Homo sapiens: one gene and its partners. The protein of the gene in region 1 interacts with the protein of each later gene in a pairwise test. Each region holds a gene or a part of one and is shown in the gene's direction. Other genes may lie near its edges.

Region 1 (7,273 bases):
CAATGAATTCTTCATTAAAAAAAAAAAATAAACTCCAACCCTGGTTGTTGTACTTTCGATATAGCATTTAATGGATCGTTTTAACTCACGTGTGAAAGTGCTTTTGGTACATACTATGGAATGGATACCGTGTTGGGATTTTTTTTTTTAAATCTACAATTTGTATAAACAGGCAGTATCCCATCGCCCATTTCTTTTCCTCTTCTGTTTCCCTTTTCCTTTCTTCTCCTTCCAACCTGCTTCCCCTCCAAGAATTCAGTGGTTAGCATCAGACCGACTGTAAAGGGATGTGTCAGACGGTGGGAATGGCCTATGAACAAAATAGGAGCCCACCTCTTTTTACTTGGCCCCAAACAAAGCGCCTCTCTCTCCTGTAATGTATGGACCCAGATTGCGATGCTGTCCTTAAGCATCTGTCCGCCTTTTCATTAAAATTCTCAATTTCAAGGTTTAGAAACACAAATGTAAGAATCCCCCTGTGTTTAAAAGTCTTGCATGGCAAATTCCCTTTGCCCTTTCAGAAATAATATTTTTGTTTAAAAAAGAAGGAGCGAGAAAGAGAGAGAGAGCTCTTTACCTAACATGTAAAGCTGTTTTAAGGCAACTTCTGTATTTTGGCTTTCTTAAAACTTGGGGCTTTGTAACTTAAAATTAATTTAGAAAAACTCTCCGAAATCACAGCTTTTAAAAAATGGTTACTCATTTGTATCTTTGTTGTGGGATATCATTGACAGATTTAGCACCTGAGCTGGGGAGGGTGGGTAAGGAAATTAGATAATGTTCCACCTACGATTTGGGGGTAAAAATTAATCTATGGAATTAGCACTGTAGGGATGGATGGAGGCCTTGAGGCTTCAGCAGAAAAATGTGAATCAAAACATCTGTGTGCAGGCCTTGGCACACCAGCTTCCAATGGTTATGAAGGCAAATGTGAGCTGTTCTGAGGAACTTCTGCATTCTGTTCCATACCCAGGAGGGCTCGGCCACCCAGCGGGTACCAGGCCCCTAAATATAACTGCCTCAAAATCATGGGGTGAACTCAGGCCAATTCAGCTCCAAATGGTTCCTTGTTTATTTCAGGAACGTTTGTTTTTGTTTCTTGCCCTCTTCTGGATTTTTCTTTGTTAAAGCCTCCGGGTTATTTAAGCACTAGTTTTAAAAATCAATGTATACGTATAATTTAATAAAAATAGAAGAACCCGGAAGGGTGCACAAATCTGTCTAAACCCGCTGTACTGTGAAAAGAGAGCCCAGGTTACGCTGGAAGTCAGAATGCTGACATCCACTGTATCTTAGAGATCATATTTACCTTTGCAAAAGTGGAAGGATACAGCATTAGTAAGTGTGTATGTGTAGAGAAAGAGAGAGACAAGCAGGTTTGGCTCGGTAGAATCATTGTAATTTACCAGCCAGCTCAGCGTTAGGGGGCAGGCCTCTGGCTTGGAGAGTGGGTAAGGGGAGGAGTAGGGAAGGGGTTAGCGCTCCCTGATTTATTTTTAAATATTTATCCTTTCGGCTGTTGCCAATTACGCTTTCCAGATGAGACGAGACTGGGTATGGAGAACTGCGAGGGAAGAATTGCCTTTTCTGAGAGTGGGTTTATTTGTCAGCAGTGTTCAGGATGGAGCGATGAGAATGTCAGGCTGTCACTGCTGGGTAGGCCATGGGTTTAACATCAGGCAGCTGCCCTCCGAAGAGCCAGGGCTTCCAGAGCTGGAGGATAGAATTTGCAAGGAGTATTTCAGAGGAACTCCTGATTTCATATGTAAGTGCAGAAGTTGCCAATTCCCTCTGAAGAGGTATTGTTTTTATGAATAAGGAAAATGAGTTTTAGTAGAGGTGACACCCAGCTTGTGTGTAGTCCCTCATTTCCATAATGTACAGAGGCCATAGATCACCTGCCTGTGGATTACCTGTTAAATTTTTGCCTGGAACAAAGGCAGGCTTGACTAGGCCTCATCATGTGTGTAGCTGGTGCCAGATAAAGAAAAGGAACTCAGGGTCACTCTCAGTTCTACTTGTCAGGCCTCTCAAGTGCAGGAGGCAGGTTGCAGGGTCTGCCTCTTGGGACAGTGGCAGTATTAGGGCAGATCCCGTCCGGGCCTTCTGCCCAGGCAGTGCTGCATCCTCCCAGGTTACTTTAATAGCTTGTTCTTTGGGCTTTCTAGCTTTTATTTTATTGAAGGTATTTGTCTGTGGGCCTACCAGGATCATGATGTCACCAGATTACGAGGTTGTCCCCTGTTAATAAAAATGAAGATAAAGCAGCAAAATTAGATTTTCTGAGAGTATCAACATTTTCTTGTTGTCTTTAATTTATCCAGCAGGCCTTACCTATCCCAGGTAAGGAATCTTCGTTTTTCCGGAGAGATTGCCAGAGGCATCTCTGCGTTGTGGGCCACGTTGCTTGCGGTCCTGCTAGCATACGTCATCTTCATGTCTTATTCATAGTCACTTTTTCAATTAAATTATTAATTGTTTTCTTTAAGGTGTTCTCAACTTATATGGCCAATATAAATAACAGTGTGTTTTGAAAACACCACCTGTTCTTGGGCCTGAAGTCAGGTGGTCTGGAAGCAGCTCTGCAGTGACCATAGTCTGGTTTGCAAACTCATCCTCCACCTTCCCTGTTGGCTCTTAACTCCCCCCACCCGGCCCCCGTGCTCTCACGTGTGACTGAATTGGGCTTGTGCCCTCCTTTGTCCCTAATCGGACATGATTCCCTGGAGGCAGTCTTTTCTCCCAGGGCCTTAGCTGAAATAAATAAATAAATAAATAAATTTCCCCAGAATCTATTCTGGACTAAAATGTAGAAAGGGGCTGTCTGTACCCAACAGGTTAGATACTTACATTAATCTGAACCCAACTTACATTGTGCAAAAAGCCTTCTATACGGGGATGTGATGGTTTTCACCAGCTAAGCATCCCTTTTTCTCCCGAGTCAGTGTGTGCCTCATGCTAATACAATTCCATACATACTGCTCTTCGCCTCATGAGCTGATTATATTTCTAACACTTGCATGGTTCATTATTGTGCCCGAGGAAAAGACTCTCCAGGCTGTAAGGCCAGCCTGGGTGGGTGGTTTTCAGAAAGGGTAAAAGCAGGTGCCTTTCTGTGCTGTGAGAATCGGGAGTAAATTCAGACTGAGGGTGGGATTCTGACAGGGAGGACAGAGGACTTCCGGTGAGATTTCTTTGGGGCTGGCTTTCAGATGAGAATGGAAAAAGGTGGACTTGGGGAGATAGAAGGCGCCCAGCAATCGCTTTGACCAACTGGAAAAGGTGAACTTGGGGAGATAGAAAGGCGCCCAGCAATCACTTTGACCAACTGGGGTGGCCGCTTTAAATCTTACCCTGGCGGTAGGAACTCCCTGGGAAAGGGCACGATCTTTGCTATCTCTGCGGTGATGTGGCTTTATAAGGTGAGGCTAAGGAGCCTGGAGGCTTACATGGTAGACTGCATCTCCTTTTCTTCCCACTTCTTTTCTTCCTATCTTTCTAGTGATCTCTCCTTTTCTCTTTCTCTGGCCTCAAAAACTATCCTTAAACTCTCAACGGAGAGCAGGGGGATGTTTTTATAAGTTTCTGCAACTGAAAAACAGAAGTGCTCTGTAAAGCAGTTAATAGGATGGGTGTGTGTTTCCAATAAATTCCTGTCCACATTGGCTCCTGTCCCCATGCTTGAGTGGCCTGGCTGTGACGTGGACGGGGCCCAGGGAGCGATGGCTCCGGTTCGGAGGCCTCAGGCTCCTTTTAGTGGCCGAGGGCGCGTCCCTTTCTTCTCGCCCGATTCTAGGCCGGCCCCTGACCTTTGATGAGCGAGGGGTCAGCGCCTCCGGGAGGGCCTGGGCTTTGTTCCCGCCGGGGCCGGTTCCCGGGGCGGCGCAGGCCGAGCGGCGAGGGTTCCTGGCCCCAGGCGGGTGCGCGGGACCCCCGGCCTGCCCCAAGGCCCGCGCCCCAAGCGGAGCGAGCGCAGCTGAGCGCCCGGGTCCCGCGCGTCCCTGTGCGTCCCCGGGTCCCTGCGGGCGGGCGGGCGCGGTCGCCGCCGAGCAACCCGGCCTGCGCCCGGCACGACTGTAGATGTCAGGCTTTGCCCGGGGAGCCGAGCGGCAGCGGGGCTGTGAGTTTCAAATTAACCTTCCGCTTTGTTGCTGTGTAATGTGGATCCCCGAAGGCCCCCCGCCCCGCCCGCCCCCCTTCCCCGGGCGGTGCGCGCTGCAAACTGCGAGTTGGGCTTCATTTACATAAAGCGATTCCGGGCGGGCGGCGGCAGAGGAGGAGGCGGCGGCGGCGGGCAGGCCGGGGACCCGGACGCCAGCGCCGCGCCCCGTGGGTGAATCCCCGCCGCGTCCCGGGGACCTCCCTCCGGGGACGGGCCGACCGCCAGCCCTGCCGCCACCATGAGCTCCCCTCCCCTGTCTCCGGGCCCCCTGCTCCTGACCAGAGCCACCTCCGAGTCCTGGGGCCAGCGGGAGGTGGGGAGCATGCCGCCTGGGGTGGGTGAGCTCGGGGCTCGGGTGCCACTGGAATTTCCCGTTGTTGCGCATGGCGGCGCGGCCCCCGGACCTGCAAGTGCCGCCTCCCTCCGGAGGTGCGCGGAGGCTTGGTGTGCCAGGTGAGTGCAGCCTCCCTCCGGGTCCGCGCAGCCGGCCTGGAGCCGCGGGCAGGTGCTGCGAGTCTTGGCTGAACTTCCCATTCTCTTGGGGCGTGTGGGGGAAGGGCAGGCTGGATGCACTTGAACTCCCAGACTCCAGTTGCCACCTACCTAGGGTGAGAGCGCCTAAATTCTGCTGGGCACACAGTAAAGCTCTTCCTTCCTCCTTCCTTCCCTTCCCTCTGTCCTCCCCTCCCTCCTCCTTTCCTGAGTCTGCTTTTGGATTAGTTCCTGCCTTCTGAATACTTGTGGTACTGGTGTCATTTAGAAGTTTGGGTGCCTCCGCCTAAAAATGCACCCTTTTCAGCCCTGGAGAAGTCGCTGGTCAGTTCGAAACAATGTGAAGAATGCGCTTGTGGAGTAATTAAAGGGAGAATCAGAGTTTTGGAGCTGGAGGGCACCTTTGGAGATCATCTTGTCCACCCTCTAATTTTAGTTTTTTCGCACTCTTGGAAAAGTCAGAGCATTTATTTCCTTGGGCAGGGGCGGGGTGGGGAGCTGATGCAAAGGAGAGAGTCAAGATTTTTATCCTGTTAGGAGGAGGAATGCCTATGTTTAGGTCAGTAGCAGAAAAACAATAACAACAAAAAGAAGCATTGTAGGCTTGGAGGGAAACGAACCTTCTGGAAAATGTTCTTTTCTGCCTTGGACACACCTGTGTTATGATAGGAAAAGGCCTGGAGGGCAAAGACTGCAGCTCACGCATGGTGTGTGCTAAGAGGGAATTGCGTGGCACAGTGGTACCTCCTGTGTTAAACTGGCTTAAGTGAAAGCCGTGAGCAGGTGAATCCAGGAGGGTCATCCCTCCCCCCACCCTCTGTGTCATTTAACAGTCCTTGAAGACTCCCTAAAGCCACTGACAGAAAACCCCAGAGAGAACAGATGGCTCTGCCTGGGCACAGAAGGAAGGCCTCTCCTTCATACTGGGTCCTGCTTGTCAGAATGCACCAGGGCAAAGCCTTGAAGGTAGATTGTGAGAAAGTTACACATCATCTTATTTCTCTCTATGCTTTGAGATCCTTGGAGACAAGTCACTAAATAAATAGTGTATAATTTAAAGCTCACCCTAGCTGGGGAAACTCTGTTTCCTTGCCGTCAAGCAGCAGGTGCGAGTTTGTAGAGTTGGCCCCTCGAGTTCCCTCATTCCTGAATTCAGGAGGTGTCAAATCTTCACGTTCAGTTAATGGCTGTGGTTTCTGGATAGGTTTCAAGGGAAACCCTGAAAATCACGAGTTCCAGGAGGCTGGGCTGGAGGAGGACACGAGAGTGCTGTGGTGGGGACTGCATTGGGTAGGAAAACATACACCTTCCAAGGTAACCTGATCAAGAAAGGCCGTAGCAAGAAACATGAGTCTGCTCCTTGTTATCAGAACAGCCACTGGCAGCCTGAGATTCTGAATCCCTCTTGCTACTCAAACATGAAAAACAATGAAGGCAAAAGTGAGGTGTGAGGGAAGTCAGGAGACCACGGTTCCAAATAATTGAAGGGTTTCAAGAATGGGGTCTTCACAGAGAGGTACATACCTGGATGTTTGCACGCCTGTATTTGTGTTCATTCTGTTTTGCAGAGACCCTGCAGGCACCCTTTCAGAGAGTGTGTAGCTATGATGGCCAAAAGAAACTTTTTCTCTCTCCCTTTGCTAAATTACAGGACTAAGGAGTTCTCCTCATGGTGTTTCCAGCATAGTTTTCAGAAAGCATGTAAAGTGCCTCTCAGAGTGGGCTGGGGTCACAGTTGGCTCTTTTATTTAATTACACAAGTGTTATTTAACAACATGGAGCAGATGCAGAAGCGAGCACTTTTAGACTTTAAAAACAGCCCTTTCAGAATCACAAGGAATTAAGTGACTTGGAGACCTTCTGTCTTTATGACATGGGTCACTTCCCTCTCTCAACAACCCCCCCCCACTTTTTTTTTTTTTTTTGAAATGGCTGTACTTTCTATGAAATAGAGCTACTGTTTTCCATTTCTCCTGAAAACAGTGTTGATGAACAGGGAACTATTGAGAAACACTTGCTAACTATTCAATAATAATAATAATAATAATAATAATAATAATAATAATAATAATGTAAATCCATGCTGCTTCCCCAACCACCTGAAACTTAATTTTGGTTCCTTTTCTTCCATTTTTTGTTTGCACAAATGAATGTTAAGGGAGGGTTGGAAAGGCCCATCTAAAACGGTGCCCTCCACAGGCCCCTGCCTGGCTCTTCCCACCAGGACAGTGAAGTGCCTGCCTTCTTGCTGCTTTGAGGTTGAATTTAACTGCTGTGTCAACTCAGTGCCAATTGGACAGCCCAGTGGCAAGGAGCTAAAATAAGCGAGATTTAGTTTTCATCATTATGACTTTAAATGATGCTTGCTAGACACTCCCAGGACCGGCCTGGCTCATCTTTGGTGACCCAAAAGTGGTTAGTTCATTAGAATAAATCTGTGATTACAGACTGCTGGAAAAGTATTTCTAGGGCTAGTGGTGATGTGGCTTAGTTCTAGCATCCAGGAAACATGTCCTTATTGTCACTGTGTGCAGTTGTTCCTTTTTGGTGTATCTTTCAGGGGTAGGAGCTTTTTTTCTTCCACCTACAAAGTATCAGTAAGAATCTGGAAATGCTTCA
Region 2 (3,423 bases), on another chromosome or scaffold:
CCTCATTTTATAACTATCCAGCCTCTGCCCATTTTGCCACGGTGCAATGTTGTATGCATTGACTCTTAGGTTTATAAATACATCAGAATGTTCTTTGCTGCCTCGCTTACATGGAAAACTCACAAACCACCTATACAATCCAAAAGAGGGGAAACAGCTCATCTCATATTAATTATGGTCCATTTCCATGATAGGATATTATGCAACCATTAAAAATCATATTTTATCTGAGTGTTAGTATATGGATTATTTTAATTATTTATACTTTTCAGTGTAATTCTTCTCTGAGCATACTACTTTTGGAGTTAGGAACACAAATCAGTAAATGCATTTTTTTTTTTAACAAAAACTAAAGCACCTGGTTTTTTGGAGTATAGTTTCCAGGTGCGCCACAGGCCTTCTGAAACGTTTTCCTTCGGATTTTTCTTTCCCCAGGTGAGCTGTCAGGGAGAAATGTCGAAACAGGTCAAGAGATGTTCTGCTCAGGTTTCCAGACATGTGCCCGGGAGGTGCTTCAGTATCTGGCCAAGCACGAGAACACTCGGGACCTGAAGTCTTCGCAGCTTGTCACCCACCTCCACCGGGTGGTCTCGGAGCTGCTGCAGGGTGGTACCTCCAGGAAGCCATCAGACCCAGCTCCCAAAGTGATGGACTTCAAGGAAAAACCCAGCTCTCCGGCCAAAGGTTCGGAAGGTCCTGGGAAAAACTGCGTGCCAGTCATCCAGCGGACTTTCGCTCACTCGAGTGGGGAGCAGAGCGGCAGCGACACGGACACAGACAGTGGCTATGGAGGAGAATCGGAGAAGGGCGACTTGCGCAGTGAGCAGCCGTGCTTCAAAAGTGACCACGGACGCAGGTTCACGATGGGAGAAAGGATCGGCGCAATTAAGCAAGAGTCCGAAGAACCCCCCACAAAAAAGAACCGGATGCAGCTTTCGGATGATGAAGGCCATTTCACTAGCAGTGACCTGATCAGCTCCCCGTTCCTGGGCCCACACCCACACCAGCCTCCTTTCTGCCTGCCCTTCTACCTGATCCCACCTTCAGCGACTGCCTACCTGCCCATGCTGGAGAAGTGCTGGTATCCCACCTCAGTGCCAGTGCTATACCCAGGCCTCAACGCCTCTGCCGCAGCCCTCTCTAGCTTCATGAACCCAGACAAGATCTCGGCTCCCTTGCTCATGCCCCAGAGACTCCCTTCTCCCTTGCCAGCTCATCCGTCCGTCGACTCTTCTGTCTTGCTCCAAGCTCTGAAGCCAATCCCCCCTTTAAACTTAGAAACCAAAGACTAAACTCTCTAGGGGATCCTGCTGCTTTGCTTTCCTTCCTCGCTACTTCCTAAAAAGCAACAAAAAAGTTTTTGTGAATGCTGCAAGATTGTTGCATTGTGTATACTGAGATAATCTGAGGCATGGAGAGCAGATTCAGGGTGTGTGTGTGTGTGTGTGTGTGTGTATGTGCGTGTGCGTGCACATGTGTGCCTGCGTGTTGGTATAGGACTTTAAAGCTCCTTTTGGCATAGGGAAGTCACGAAGGATTGCTTGACATCAGGAGACTTGGGGGGGATTGTAGCAGACGTCTGGGCTTTTCCCCACCCAGAGAATAGCCCCCTTCGATACACATCAGCTGGATTTTCAAAAGCTTCAAAGTCTTGGTCTGTGAGTCACTCTTCAGTTTGGGAGCTGGGTCTGTGGCTTTGATCAGAAGGTACTTTCAAAAGAGGGCTTTCCAGGGCTCAGCTCCCAACCAGCTGTTAGGACCCCACCCTTTTGCCTTTATTGTCGACGTGACTCACCAGACGTCGGGGAGAGAGAGCAGTCAGACCGAGCTTTCTGCTAACATGGGGAGGTAGCAGGCACTGGCATAGCACGGTAGTGGTTTGGGGAGGTTTCCGCAGGTCTGCTCCCCACCCCTGCCTCGGAAGAATAAAGAGAATGTAGTTCCCTACTCAGGCTTTCGTAGTGATTAGCTTACTAAGGAACTGAAAATGGGCCCCTTGTACAAGCTGAGCTGCCCCGGAGGGAGGGAGGAGTTCCCTGGGCTTCTGGCACCTGTTTCTAGGCCTAACCATTAGTACTTACTGTGCAGGGAACCAAACCAAGGTCTGAGAAATGCGGACACCCCGAGCGAGCACCCCAAAGTGCACAAAGCTGAGTAAAAAGCTGCCCCCTTCAAACAGAACTAGACTCAGTTTTCAATTCCATCCTAAAACTCCTTTTAACCAAGCTTAGCTTCTCAAAGGCCTAACCAAGCCTTGGCACCGCCAGATCCTTTCTGTAGGCTAATTCCTCTTGCCCAACGGCATATGGAGTGTCCTTATTGCTAAAAAGGATTCCGTCTCCTTCAAAGAAGTTTTATTTTTGGTCCAGAGTACTTGTTTTCCCGATGTGTCCAGCCAGCTCCGCAGCAGCTTTTCAAAATGCACTATGCCTGATTGCTGATCGTGTTTTAACTTTTTCTTTTCCTGTTTTTATTTTGGTATTAAGTCGTTGCCTTTATTTGTAAAGCTGTTATAAATATATATTATATAAATATATTAAAAAGGAAAATGTTTCAGATGTTTATTTGTATAATTACTTGATTCACACAGTGAGAAAAAATGAATGTATTCCTGTTTTTGAAGAGAAGAATAATTTTTTTTTTCTCTAGGGAGAGGTACAGTGTTTATATTTTGGAGCCTTCCTGAAGGTGTAAAATTGTAAATATTTTTATCTATGAGTAAATGTTAAGTAGTTGTTTTAAAATACTTAATAAAATAATTCTTTTCCTGTGGAAGAGAAAGATGGTCTCCTGAGTTTTTTAAAATAGCTCACTTGGTGTGATATGGCTGACTCCCATGTCCTTCTTTCTTGGCTGAAGCAAACCAGTTAATCTCAGTGTAATTTCATTCAGCTTTTCATGTGCTTTGTATTCAATCAGAATAAGCTTAGTCAACCTGGCAGGTAAATATTGGTTCAATTTTTGTTTAACCCTTGCCAGGGGTTCATGATCATCCTCTACCTCTTTCCAGAGTTAAGTAAAAAGCATATTTTCCCCTGCCTGCTTTCATCGTGGTCCTTGGAACTTGACAGAAAACCAAGGTATGACACCGTGGGCAGCAGTGTCTGGGGAGCCTGCTGGAGGGAGAGGCACATTGAGAAAAGATTTACTGGATTATTATGCAATACTAATTGATGCTAGGATAGCACCTCTTTGCCAAAGCAGTCTAGCTTTTTCAAATCTAGCAAGGTCTAATGGATTTGCCATATCCTGTCTTATTCCTGCTGGAGGCAACATTCCATAATTATTTTCTACATCCTTCCTGGACTTCCTCTCCGGTATGTTTGTGCGTGAATGCATATTGGGTGTTCCTTCGACAAGTGCTCTTATTTAAAAAAAAAAAAAAAAAATTCCATGGGAAAGGTGGGAAATGACCCTGTCGTG
Region 3 (6,894 bases), on another chromosome or scaffold:
AGGAAGAAGACTGGAGTCTAGTAAACTAGGGGTGGGAGATTTAAAATGAAAAATAAAACGAGTCAGAGGAATGGTAAGTTAGTCTTTTAAAAACCAGGAAAGGTATGTACGCAAAAGCAAGAAGTAACAGAGAAATGAAAAAAAAAAAAGAGTAAAACCGTAAACAAAAAAGCAAACAACTACAACAAAAAGAACAGGTCTCAACAGAGAGAAAGGCATGTCATATCGATTTGTATTACATCTACATGTTATGATAGCATAAGTAGAAATATACTAAGTCTAGTAAGAGTGTCTTGATGACTTTTTGAACCATCTGTTCACTTTTTTTTTTTTTTTGCTTTTGGTCCTTGGATTAAAGAAGCCTCCAGGTATGTTAGCTCTTCTCATCCCTAAACATTGCAAAACATTCATCAAAACAAAGGAAGATGGAGATGACCAACTTCTGCACTTTATCTTGATTCCCAGTCCTCCATTTATCTATCAGTGTCCTCTGTGGTTTAAGAAATCAAGGACATCGCTATCCTGAGAAGCTAGGGACTGGGATTTTGGGCAATGGTGGGACCTCTTTTGGTTTGACTTACGGTGACCTTTTGCCATCACTGCTGCCTTGCCTACAAGAGTATCTTGGAAAAGGACATATCTAGCTGCTTCGCGATCAAGGAGTGGGCTTTAGAGGGCCAGAAAATGCACAATATTATGGAAATTTGATGGGAGGTAAGAAAACAGAGAGATGATGGTAATGGTGAATATTTCACTCAAGGAGTCTCCTTTCCTAAAATGCTACTGTGGGAATGGGAATCAATATTAGTTGGCATACCCCCATTCTCTCCCATTTGTTTTCCATTAATCAAACCTTAGAAGTGTCTGCCACCCACATTGATGGAGAAACAGATGGTTTGCTCATGCTGTTTCCCTTGCCCTGAACAGGAGCTGCCCTCTGTTTATATCACAACCCAAATCTTTTCACCATCTGCATAGAGGCTTCCTCCCTTCCCCAGGAGAATTAATCTTTCCTGCCCTCCATAGACCTCCCATATGGGAAAATAACTAACACTTGCTGGGCACTTACACAGTATAGCTCAATAAGCTTTCACAAAACATTATCTCCCCAAATCCTTACACTACCCTTGAGGGATTATTATCACTGGTATAAGACACAAAATCCATGACTCAGAGAAATGGCACTTTCTCAAGGCCACACTCTCTGAGAGGTCAGGGAGGGAGTCCATCCCAACCCGAGCCCATGCATTATGGTGCCTAAAGTGTCAGCATGTTCCACCAGCTAGCATCAAACAATTCCCCCAGATAAATCTTTTAACCATTTGGTTTATTTTTATTATGTTTCTAAAGCAATCTGTGCTGTTTTGCGCTAACACCAATACAGTACTTGGCACCTAGTACAGGTTCCATAAATATGTGCGGAAGAGTGGGTGCTTCATGTGTGATAGTCACTATTGTGAATGTTACTTGACTCTGTGGTTTCATATGAAGGGGCTCCAGTTTTGGATTCAGAGCAGGTTCAAATCATATTCCTATTAATCATGAGTTGTTACCTTTTTTTTTTTTTTGAGCCTAATCTGCAAAATGGGAATAACCATCTCTGCCTCACTGAGTTGTTATTTCACATGTAACATACTGTGAAGTGTCTGACACAGTGCCTGGCTCAGCCTCCCATCAACGCTGGCTAGTAATAATTATAATTCATACAGGCCAGATGGTCATGTAAACAACTGGAATATAAGCAAAGAGTGTTGTCCCTACGCCAATCGGAACCACCATAATTTGTGGGACAGAGCTTCAAAGGAGGTCTTCGGCCTCATACTGCAGCTTGGCCAGCCTCTCCCACCCACCTCCACCCACACCCCCAGCCCCCAGCCCCATAGGAAGGCGCTTAAGAAGCTTAGATCCCAGGGGAAGTTGAGCCTCCGATCGGGTGGCAGCGCGTGGGGAACCCAGGCTGCACTACAGAGGACGCAGGACGCCAAAACCACCCCGGGGCTCACGCCATCCGCGCACCGGCTCTGCTGCCTAAGTCCGAGGACGCAGGCGGAGGGCGCGGGGCTCCCGGGCGCCCAGGAGGGCGGTGCCGCCGGGGTGCGCTCCAGGCTTGGCTGCAAACCCCCCAAGAATTAGAAAGCGGGGGCGGCTGCTCAGCGGCTGCTGCGGCCTGGGACTGCAGCTCGCCCCTCCTCCGCAACTTCCCACTGGTCCCGTCACCTGGCTTTCTGTCTAGTGTCCGCCCAGGCGGGGTCCCAAGAAGGCGATGCCAGGAGCAGTCGCGCCCCCTGCCCTCTGTGAGCCCGCAGGTTTCGGGCAAGTTTGGCTCAGTCCTTGTCGATGCTCCAGGCTCGGCTTCCCTGGCCTCCCCTTCCCTGGCCAAAGGAGATGATGGGAAGCCTGAGGTTCTGATCTGGGATAACTGCAGAAACCCCCGGGTAGGACTTCAGCGCAGACGGGACATTTAATGATGTTGAGAAGGGCCTTTCCTCAGTTAGCCCTCAGCTCCCAGGAGGGCTACCCAGTTGGTGCACGGTCTCATTTTATTTGGGGATGCTGATTTAACTGTGTGTGTGTCTGTGTCTGTGTGTGTGTGTTTGTGTGTGTGTGCGCGCGCGCTTCGGTCCTTCATTCTTTGCTCCTAAAGATTTCTTTAACAATGTTGAAAATTGTTTTGTTTTTTTTTTCTTACTTGAAGTTCCTTTTGATTAATTTTCAAGCCGTGGGTATTATGCAATAATATACATAATAGTATATATTCTGTATTAAATATTTCTCATTGCTACCCGACCTGTCATCAGTTTAGAGCCTTGAAAAAAATCTCCATTTTAATATTAACACAAGGTTTTCCCATAAATTTGTTTTGAAAAGTTAGGGAGAGTATACTAACTAATGAACTTCAGTTAAAAAGTAGGCAAATGAAAAAAAAAAAGAAAAAAAGTAGGCAAATGCGAATGTTCTTCACTGCCACAAAGCCACCAAGTTAACGGATGGTGTTTATGGGTTTGGGTTTTTGGAGAGCAACTTTACAATACCTGTAGGATTGTCTTGAAAGTCAGGTTCCGATCTTTAGCCTAAGAAGGTTAAAAAGTTGGTAAGTTATATTCTTTTCACCCTTAACAATAACTGACCCATAATGCATTAGCAATCTGTCCCTAGATTGTGAGGAATCAGATAGTTAAAATTAAATTTAGAAAGTTAAAATACTTGTCATCACATTAAAAACACATTACATCAGTTTAGATGAGCTGCAAGTAAATCATCCCTTACCTTTCAGAAGATAAAAAGTTTAGTGACTGCTATTTACACACTTTGAATATTTTATATTACAGTGGTCATCATCATTTACACGGATTATTTTCTATGTCCACTTCCAATTCACAAATATCAGGGTGTTTGTTATGTAGCAGTTCACATTTCAAGCTTCTCTGAAAAGGTGTCCTTATATAAAACAACAGAGATAACTGCATATTATCAAAAGGTCATTTAGAGATTTTAAAAATAAAATCATTAGGGACCCCTTAAGAAAAGTAGAGCAATGAACTGTAATTTTAAAAATGTATATAATAGCACAAAAATCAAAGTCTTAATGGACACTCATTTGAGATAGTTCATTTTGTTTTTGTTTTGTTTTAAACATAGATTTCTAGAGCATTAAAAACAATCCTCATAGGTTTGTTAAACCTTTAGCGGAAGATTACAGCCCATGTTTTTGTCTTTGGTGAATAGCTGTTTGTCTCACTTTATTTACTTGGTATTGGATATTTGTCAATGTCATTTCATATCTACAGAAAATTCTTACGCTCTGTGGAGGTAGTGAATGTGTGTGTGCGTGTCTGCCGGAGGTCACATGACGGTTTCATTCTATTTGGTGGAGCAGCTTGACTTTTTTTCCCCTTGCTTTTGGTGATGGTTGTGAGTGCAGAAGTTGATTGACAGATGCATGCCAGAAACCCCCATTCTCCTTTTCAAAGACAACATATGATGGATTGCTATCTCTCAGCGCAGCAGGACACGGGGACCATGCAAGCTGTAATTGGTCAGGTATGGAGTCAGCCATTTCTCAACTCCCCTTTTTTCCACAAGGGTCTCACCATATGATTCACATAATTCATATTTACAGTACCATCTTTCTATCTGTATCTTCAGCTACCTGCCAGTGTAGTGCTGAAAGTGCGAAAGGCAAAAGGCACCCATTAAATCTGACCAGGGAAACCTCAGCTTAAAACTTCAATGCGATCCTTTTAAACAAAAACTAAAACAACAACAAAAACACTGGAGAATAAATCTAATTTATAATTTGGTCTGAATGTTTCTTAAAAATCTATTTTAGAAATTTGCTTTCTTTTTGGATTTTGATCTCTGAAAGAAAGTGCGAGAAGAGAATCAAGTGTGGTTTCCTAGGTAGTAGTTAATATTTTTCTAATGCTGTTCAATATTTTTATTTTGACTGTGCTCTCTCCTTCTCTCTTTCTCTCCCTCTCTCCCTTTCTCCATATGGGAAATATAAATATATAAATACATGTGCCTTGACTTCTAACCCAGATAATGTGTGATTGAGCCCGGTAAATGTAGTAGTAGTCTTGGCTGCTGCAGAAGGGCAGGCTGCAAATTAAACACTGTCACAATCTTGAAAGGTCCAGGTGGTCTGCTCGCGCTTCCTAATGCAATCCAGCACAGCAGCTTTAATAAACAGCTCCATTTAGTGCCTCCTCCTTGTATCTAGGGAGGTGAGCTGGTCTGGGGCTGCTGTGATGAAATGCCAGAAGAATATCTCTCAGAGGCCTCACAAGCTGATTTTTAGAGCTTTCCCGCTCTGTCGTCTTTGTCTTCCAAATGGGTCAGTGAATCTTGCTCTTTCTGTTTGGTGCTTTCCGTGAAGTCAGTAGTTTATGTTTGTGTTAAAATGTTTGCGTTGTAAGCTAAATCAGAAAACGAAAAGGATCATTGTATTTTCATTTGCCTTCAGATAACTAAAGTGGTGGAAGGAAGGATAGTACCCTCCTGCAAAGGGAGGGTGATTTTTCTGACTATGATGGGGGTGGGGTAAGGAAAAAGGAAATATACATGGTTTCTTTTCTTTTTTGTAATGTATTTTTGACTAAATTTTTCTAAGTTATCTATGTTTACTTATGGATTGTTAACTCATAAACCAGACTATGGTCACGAATATTTATAAACTCCTAAAAGTTTTTTTTTTTGTACACTTTCCAATCAAGACAAGCTGGCAAGGCAATGACATAAAATTTGTTTGCTTTATGTTAATAGCATGGTGGAAAATATATCATCTTATTCTGTTTTCAACAAAATTATAGAAAAGCACTTCAGGGTTCTGAAAGCACATGGTTTATTAATACCAGCATGCTTGCTTCATAATGTATTTTTAGATGGAAAATGTCAAATACATAATACCATGTTTTCACAGGCTCACACTATTTTAAAAGAAGTAGATATTTGCTTCGACAGAGAAATATTTTTTAAAACTTTCAAGTTAATTTTTGTTCTATAAGCATATATAAAGTGAAGTCTCTAGGCAGGAGAAAATATATAAACTGATTTTATATACTCTTAATACCTGTTTCAATGTAAGTACTCACTGACGAGCAAATATATCAAATATAGCTAAAATAATTGTGGTGTAGGGAATGAAATAAATATCTGTTACAATAGATGACTTTTGCATATTGAAATAAAACTTGAGCCCCTGATCACTGTCTTGTCCTGTTTAATAAAACTTTTCTTAGGTTGCAGGTCCTGTCTTCTGTATGGCATAGTTATGGTTCTTAATACCGTGCAGAATTACTGTACTTCAATCTCTAATAAGAATAGGATTTCCTTTTTCTATATATTTCTGGTGAAAAAATCAGGAAAGTCACTTGTAGTTTGTTATTCAGTATTGTTTATTGGAAATCAATTGTAAAGGCATATACTTTTTAAAGGCTCAGGTATATACTTAAAAAAATGAATCAGGACATATTTTTACAGATAGTAGGCTTAACTTCTAATTTGTCAGGATTTAAAATTAGTTATTATTACATAGCTCTGTATTTTGTATGTACTCTTTAGTATAATTGTTAAAGGTTCCACATGTCTAAGAACTCTACAGGTTAATGACTTCTTATGAATACATTGTAAATAGTTGCATCAAAGTAGTCACATGCTTTCTGAAGGTGTTATTTCTCATAATTTGTTAAAAACGCCTCAAAATGCCAAGTCAGTAAATTACAAAAGCAATTGTGCTGAAGGTTGTAAACATTTCTGTGCTAAAATGTACAAACTAGAATGCTGATTTTTTATTTGAAATTGAAACAGTAAGTATTTAAAAGGAAAGAAGAATAGAATATTGTCCTATATGTATACCATAAAAGTCAGAAAGTCTATATTGAAACCATATCTAGAAATATAAAAAAGAAAGGTGGTATACATATTTGAAGTGGATTCATTTCAATAGTTACAGCACAGATAAGTGTATTTACTCAAATGATTACTTCTAACAATAGGGAAAAGAATGTGAAAATAATTTTTATTGCTCTGCTGTCACTCAAAACCAGAAAGGGATGGTTTATTTTTTAGCTCTTGTCTTAAATATCGTCTTATATCTACTCAGCAGGTGTGAACAAGCCCATTTAATAATGCAAATGTTTGTGTTTGTTTCTGCTCAAATACGTTTTGGAATAATTATTATTTTTGTCTTTTTTTTTTCCTGTTCTGAGTGCTGTTCCTAGATGGCTTTGGGTTGGAGGAGCAAATAACCAGTTTTCAGTCAGAATATTGAAAGATTCCCATGAAGTATGAGCTTTAGGTTTTTTCATTCACTCCTAGGATGAAATATCCACAGTTGCTTCCACTGTAGGGAAGAGTAGACTTTTCTGTTTCTGGCCATGATCCAGCTCAGGA
Region 4 (7,015 bases), on another chromosome or scaffold:
TTCTTCTGTGATACAGAAGAAAACAGATCAATGGGTGGATATGACAAGAGTTGTTCACCAGAGCAAAGTCTGGGCAAGGGTCTTTCAGCAGACCCCAGGTGGGGGGCTCAGCCAAGTCTTTAATAAATGCAGTTTGGATCTTTGTTAATCTTCCTGGAACTCTGAAAGAGTATTTTCTTTTTTTTTTTTTTGAGATGGAGTCTCACTCTGTTGCCCAGGCTGAAGTACAGTGGCATGATCTCGGCTCACCGCAATCTCTGCCTCCCCGGTTCAAGTGATTCTCCTGCCTCAGCCTCCCGAGTAGCTGGAATTACAGGCGCCTGCCACCACACCTGGCTATTTTTATATTCTTAGTAGAGATGGAGTTTCACCATGTTGGCCAGGCTGGTCTCATACTCCTGACCTTAAGTGATCTGCCTGCCTTGGCCTCCCAAAGTGTGGGATTGCAGGCATGAGCCACCGCACCCAGCCTGAAAGAGTATTAGCTATGAACATACCCTGACACCTCTCTTTTAAAAAATTAGAAAGGAGCTTCTCTTTATAATTTTCTGTATAAATGCATTGTACACAGTCCTGATTTCGGTGTTTGGGTAGTGGAGGGAAGATTGTAATTCTATAGATGTTTGTAGTCTACAGGTAAAGGATAATTAGGTAAATATCTGATCTTGCAAGGTTAAGACTGTCATGTTAACATATTTGAATGCGGTCAGATGCTGTTATTGGCAATGTTGTCTTGATTAGACATCATCATGCCCTTGCCTGGTTAGACTGAGGTAGGGCAGAAAAGCAGATAGGGTGGCCACAGCCTCCTGTTGGCAATGGCACGTCTTCACTGACAGGGCTAGAGTGTTCCTAGTTGTGACTTTGCAACCTGTACCAGGTAAGAACGAAGCCAGGACTAGGAGCAGCAGACTGAGAGGAGTGGTCCAGCTAATGGACTCATATTCATTACTGCTTACACTAAGTTCAAGAACTTGCAGAGGAGTGATTTTCAGAAACCTTAGGCATTTATTTGCTAGTCCAGTCTCAAGAAGTTGCTGCAGGCCGGGTGCGGTGGCTCACACCTATAATCCCAGAACTTTGGAAGTGGGTGGATCACCTGAGGTCAGGAGTTCAAGACCAGCCTGGCCAACATGATGAAACCCCGTCTCTACTAAAAAATAAAAAAATTAGCTGGGCATGGTGGCAGGAACCTGTAATCCCAGCTACTTGGGAGGCTGAGGCAGGGAGAATCGCTTGAACCCAGGAGGCGGAGGTTGCAGTCAGCTGAGACTGCACCACCGTGCTCCAGCCTGGGTGACAGAGTGAGACTCCATCTCAAAAAAAAAAAAAAGTAAATTGCTGCATAGGTGAGGCTTAATCTTACTGGGGCCATCACTTGGTCCTGGGTTCTGTTATTTTCTGGCCCAGAAACTAGATTTCCCCAGGGGGAGTCAGGCTTTAGGAATTTATGTCACCTTAGCCAAACTCACAAGGACTATTTGTAAACTAGAATGTTTGTTTTTTCTTACATATATATTGAACACCTACTGAGTGTGTGGTTCTGTCCTAATTTCTGGAGGAAGTCCCAAAGGGGGGTAAAGTCCCTTTAGAAGCTTGTGGGACAGATATGTAAATAAATATGTTATATATGGTGTGCTAAGTGTAGAATGGCCTTACATCCTGGTCTTCTGGAGACAGTCCTGGTTTATGCCTATAGTCCCTGTGTAACTATTAAGAATGCTGTCTTTCACTTTCAGATCTAAGGCCACAGGAAGTGTTCTTTATGGATGTTCGGGGTATAGAAATGATAGAAAGGAAGGACAATGAGCCTGCTTCCCCCTGTAGACACTTGAGCTAAGTGCTGAAGGACGTTCGAGCAGCTGAAGCCTGGGAACTTGGGGTGGGCTGGGGTGGGGGAGGAGGTGTGTTCCAGGAATTCGCAAAGCTCCCTCTGCAGGCAAAGGGAGACTGTTCCCGAAGCAGTAAGCAGTTGGTTCAAGCTAGGCACTGTTTCCCAAATTTACCCTGTGATAACAGTTCCCCAGGACACTTAGTGAACACACAGATTTCCAGACTCTGCTGGCAATTTGGATTTTTTTAAGAAGGCTGGCGGATGATTCTTGGGCATATTAAAGATTGACAACGAGTTCTCTACTCACTGTGGCTAGGAATACAAAAGGATGGGCATAGAGGGGAATGGGAACCGAAAGATTAGAGCACGAGTCACTGATCAGCCAGGCAGGGGTGACCTCAGGCAAGAAAACCTTCAGAGGTAAAACCAGGTGGGAGTTATTTACAGTAGATCATGAAAGATGGGGAGTGCGGGAACTATGTCAGTCACCACAGGGATGCAAAGGAATGAAAAGATAAGAGAACTATTCAGGAGGAAGAACAGGTCCTAGTGTATGCTAGTTACTGATTTGCTGGGGTAATATTATTTCCCAGAAACAGAACCCTGTGTCAAATCCAGGAGCCTGGGGGACTGTAGAACCTGAAGTTTTACTGGGTAAGCATAAACCTAAAACTACAACAGTTGGATAAGTGGTGTGATATATTTCACATGGACCTCCTGCCTAGTTCACTTCTTTATAGTCGCTAGAACACTCATGACAATTTATTTCTGGGAAGAAGCCAGGATGAATTCGAAAGCATCCTGACACCCCACCCCTTTCTTTTCTCTAGACTTCAGGTTAACTCCTGCCCTTCGGTTTTGGTAAAACTACCCTGCCAAGCCTTATCTTGTATTTTGCTCCTGTTTTTGTTATCAAATGTGTAAAACAGTCACGATGAATATACATGCCAACTGCTTTCAGAGGCAACGGTTAGTCTCTTGCAAGTTTCAACGTGCACATTTTGGAGCTGCTGTCTCTGTGGGAACCTGCAGGCACCTCATGGATGCACCACAACTCGGAAATTACAGTACCACCTGGAACACCTTATCCAGGCAAGGAGATCATTAAGCCTGGTGTTTGAGGCAATCGATTCACTTGGAAGAAGGTGCTTTGGTGGTTTTGAGAGGAACAATCCCTACATGAAATCCCTCCATGGGAAATGGAGAACATCAGCTATTTCCCATTGCCTTCAAACCTAAAGATGTCGCCAGGCCTCTTGGCTTGTTACTGAAGCAGCGAAATAAGTCAGAAATCAAAGACTTAGAAGTTACGAAAAGAAAATCTCAAAAAGGAGAATGGGGTCAGGCGCGGTGTCAGGCCTGGAATCCTAGCATTTTGGGAGGCAGAGGCGGGAGGATCGCTTGTGGCCAAGAGTTCAAGACCAGCCTGGGCAACATATCGAGACGCCTGTCTGTATTTTAAATAAATAAATATGGAGAATGGGAAACCCATCAGGCTGTAATCTCACAGGGAATTTAGTACCCTTTACCTAAGACAAGACCTGGGCACTTGGGAAGCCTCCCCGAGTGCGGTTTGGGGAGGGGGAGGGCATCTTAAATTCCAGTCCTCGGTCACTCTTGTGGCTTTGCCAAGGGATTTTCAAATCCCGGGAATGCCAGGGATGGAGATGAACAGGCTGAAATCCCCCACGCTGCCAGGGTTAGGGAGGGGAAAACAACAGTCCACAGCGGCCGCGAAGGTTTGTATTTTTTTTTTTTTGGTAACAAGGGGCTTGTGTGCAGTCCAATATCACCATCGCCGTGAAGTCACAGTGGCAAGATGAAAATGTTTAAAAAAATTTTAAAAAGGAATAAGGAAAGAGGAAGAGGACAGCGTGCCCCGGCTCAGAAAACGGTCCTCCTCTGCCCCGGACGCCGGCGGACCTGTGGGGTATGACCGAATCTCCCCGCGCAGCCGGCAAGCCCCGGCCCTCAGTCGGGCCGCGACCAGCGTGACGCCGCGGTAGGGGGATCCGGCGGGCGCGCGGCCGTCTTCAAAGCCCCGGCGCCGCCGCCGCCCCCGCGCGCGCGCGCGAGTAGTACGGTCCGAGGGGGCGGCTTCTGGGGCGCGGCTCCGGCGGCAGCTGATGCGCGCCCCGCCGGCCGGGAGGCGGGAGTCCGCGAGCCGGGAGCGGGAGCAGCAGAGGTCTAGCAGCCGGGCGCCGCGGGCCGGGGGCCTGAGGAGGCCACAGGACGGGCGTCTTCCCGGCTAGTGGAGCCCGGCGCGGGGCCCGCTGCGGCCGCACCGTGAGGGGAGGAGGCCGAGGAGGACGCAGCGCCGGCTGCCGGCGGGAGGAAGCGCTCCACCAGGGCCCCCGACGGCACTCGTTTAACCACATCCGCGCCTCTGCTGGAAACGCTTGCTGGCGCCTGTCACCGGTTCCCTCCATTTTGAAAGGGAAAAAGGCTCTCCCCACCCATTCCCCTGCCCCTAGGAGCTGGAGCCGGAGGAGCCGCGCTCATGGCGTTCAGCCCGTGGCAGATCCTGTCCCCCGTGCAGTGGGCGAAATGGACGTGGTCTGCGGTACGCGGCGGGGCCGCCGGCGAGGACGAGGCTGGCGGGCCCGAGGGCGACCCCGAGGAGGAGGATTCGCAAGCCGAGACCAAATCCTTGAGTTTCAGGCAAGTACACGGCGTCCCCGCTGAGATGCAGACGCGCTTGCCTCCATCCATCTGCGACTCCCTCTGTGTGCGTGTGTGTGGTCGCCACCCGCGAAACCGTCCTCACGGCCGTGCCGCGTCCCTGCCCGGAGCCGGGTCCCCGTGTGCGTCCGAAAGTTCAGGATCTTCTGTCCTCCCGTGGGGTTTCTGGCCCCCGTTTCGCTAGGAGAGTTCCGCACCCAACCCAGAATCTGCAGTCTCTCCGCATCCCCGCTGGCCTCGGTCACTTTCTCTAAGCTTCGACCCCCAGCCCCCGCCCCTCCACACTGGAGCAACGTCACTGATCTAACCCAGTGCAACTTAGGGCCCCCCCGTGGGGAAGAAGTCGCTCCCCGGCCCTTCCCGGGGCCCTACCGTGTACCCAAAACGCAGCCGCGGTGAAGAAGGTCGCGTGATGACAGGCCCCTGGCAGCTGCTGGGAAATGGTGGTCTCTGCCGGGCTGTCATCCGCGTGATTGCGGAAGGCAGGTGACACCATTCTTAGCCTCGGGCCCAGGGAGTTCCAGCAGGTAGAGGCCTACCGAGCAAAGAGGAATGCCTAGCATCGGCCTAACTCGGGGGTGGGACCAGTATTAATTGTTAAAGCCTCTGGGAAAGGGCTCTTGTGACAAAAGGAGTCTGTTGGAAAAGCGCATTTTTCAGGTGTCTGAGGGAAGGATGACCTCGAAAATAAATGGTGCTGGAGAAAAGCTCCAGGGAATGGAGGAGCTTTCAGAGAGACAGGATGCCAGCCTGAGAAACCCAAGGAGGGCACTGCTCAGAGACCGCAGTTGCCTCCCGCAGGTCAGACCCTGCTGAGGACCGGTTGGTTGTGAAGTTAGACAAAAGTGCTGGACTTTTAGCCTCTGTGAATATGTAGATTTCAAAGGGTGTCGGAAATACCGTTGAAAGTGGTAATTCCTCATTTTTCCTCCTTGGCAGCTCGGATTCTGAAGGTAATTTTGAGACTCCTGAAGCTGAAACCCCGATCCGATCACCTTTCAAGGAGTCCTGTGATCCATCACTCGGATTGGCAGGACCTGGGGCCAAAAGCCAAGGTAAAGAAAAACTTGCATTTTTCCTGCCTGTTTTGTTTCAAAAGTTTTGAAAAATATCAATGAAGGAAGGAAAAAAGTGTAAATTTAGGACCATTTAAGAGAGTTTGACTAAGAAAGAGCTGTTTGAAACCTCCTGGCTTATGTATTTTTAGGGGTGTGGTGATCGAGGCTTTCTCCTCTGAGTAGAGTTTGTGCATTTGCAGTATAAGATTATCATTATCAAACATTCCTACTAGGCCTTTCTCCTCAGCCCCTAAAAAAATATGTATAGTAATGAAGTAGGAAGATCATGTTTATATTTGACTTCACAAATTCCTCAGGCTAAGTTGCTTTCTACTGGGGTGTGGCTGGAGACAAAAATTACAGGTAAGACTTGACTTAATTTTTGATAGGGAGGTTCTTAAGAGGCTTTTTCGGAATCACTCACCTCGCCCACTTCCATGCAGGGATGTGGTGAGAGCCCTTCAGTCTACTTAGGAAAACCTGGCACATGGATTCCCTCCCAGCCCCTCAGAGCCCAGCCCTTCATCTGCAGGAGCTTCCGTTGTCTCACTTAATTAGTAGAAACCTTTTTTGTCACACAGCCAGTTCAGAATAAAATTTCACCTATCCCAACAGAATTCATATGCTTATTTACTAAATAGAGTGCACTGTGATTCAGCAGTGAAGTCCTGCTCTCTCGAGCTAACATTGTGGAGGGAGAACCTGTGAAGGGTTAAGCAAAATATCTATGTCAGCTTGTGTGAAGCACTGTGGAGAAAAATAAAGCAGGGGAAGAGAATAGGGAATATGGAGTGGGGATAGGGAAGGCTGAAGGGGAGTTAGTGGGGGCATTCATGATTAGGTGACTTGAACAGAGACCTGAAGGCAGATTGAGGGAGCAGGCCTTGGAGGTTCCTGAGGTGGGAACCCTTCCAGCAGAAGGAGTGGCATCTGCAAAGGTCTGACAGCACCAGCCTGCTGCAGGGAGGCCGTAAGGTGGAGGGTTCATGGTACAGTTTGAGGACCAGCCAGGAGGTCAGTGTGGACTGACTACTCAGAGAGCAGGAGGAGCTGAAGTCAGCGTGGTCAGAGGAGGTCCAGATGCTGCTGCAGTGAGGATTTGGTTTTCAGTAAGGTGGAAAGCCACTGGAGGGCATATGCATTTCCAAGGGCTGCCATAACAGAGTAACTTAGCGGCTTACAATAACAGAAATTATTCTCTCACAGTCCTGGATAATTGAAATCAGAACCAGAAGTCTCAAGTCAAGGTGTTGGCAGGGCCTTGCTCTTCTGAAGGCTCCAGGAAGTCTGTCCTTGCCTCTTCTAGCCTCTGCTGGGTGTCTGCAATCCTTTGTGTTCTTTGGCTTGTGGCAGCAGAACTCCAGTCTCTGTCTCAACACATGGCCATCTTCTCCCTATGTATCTGTCTTACCGTGCCCTTCCTGTGAGGACACCAGTCGTT

Evidence for each region.
Region 2: the proteins of ZFHX3 (region 1) and BHLHE40 interact in binary tests that used the Homo sapiens proteins (3 or more experiments, as listed by UniProt).
Region 3: the proteins of ZFHX3 (region 1) and POU6F2 interact in binary tests that used the Homo sapiens proteins (3 or more experiments, as listed by UniProt).
Region 4: the proteins of ZFHX3 (region 1) and TACC1 interact in binary tests that used the Homo sapiens proteins (3 or more experiments, as listed by UniProt).

The regions. Positions count from the first base shown.
Region 1 is NC_000016.10:73,045,094-73,052,366, reverse strand, and holds the start of ZFHX3 (zinc finger homeobox protein 3), read left to right. Parts: upstream 1-4,238; 5' UTR 4,239-4,545; coding exon of another isoform or gene 4,546-4,615; exon of another isoform or gene 4,616-4,789; intron 4,790-7,273.
Region 2 is NC_000003.12:4,982,401-4,985,823, forward strand, and holds the end of BHLHE40 (class E basic helix-loop-helix protein 40), read left to right. Parts: intron 1-435; coding exon 436-1,292; 3' UTR 1,293-2,923; downstream 2,924-3,423. UniProt on the Homo sapiens protein: Transcriptional repressor involved in the regulation of the circadian rhythm by negatively regulating the activity of the clock genes and clock-controlled genes.
Region 3 is NC_000007.14:38,974,018-38,980,911, forward strand, and holds the start of POU6F2 (POU domain, class 6, transcription factor 2), read left to right. Parts: upstream 1-3,891; 5' UTR 3,892-3,936; coding exon 3,937-4,041; intron 4,042-5,877; exon of another isoform or gene 5,878-6,894. UniProt on the Homo sapiens protein: Probable transcription factor likely to be involved in early steps in the differentiation of amacrine and ganglion cells. Recognizes and binds to the DNA sequence 5'-ATGCAAAT-3'. Isoform 1 does not bind DNA.
Region 4 is NC_000008.11:38,783,249-38,790,263, forward strand, and holds the start of TACC1 (transforming acidic coiled-coil-containing protein 1), read left to right. Parts: upstream 1-3,987; 5' UTR 3,988-4,308; coding exon of another isoform or gene 4,309-4,334; coding exon 4,335-4,495; intron 4,496-4,857; exon of another isoform or gene 4,858-4,998; intron 4,999-5,455; coding exon 5,456-5,571; intron 5,572-7,015. UniProt on the Homo sapiens protein: Involved in transcription regulation induced by nuclear receptors, including in T3 thyroid hormone and all-trans retinoic acid pathways. Might promote the nuclear localization of the receptors.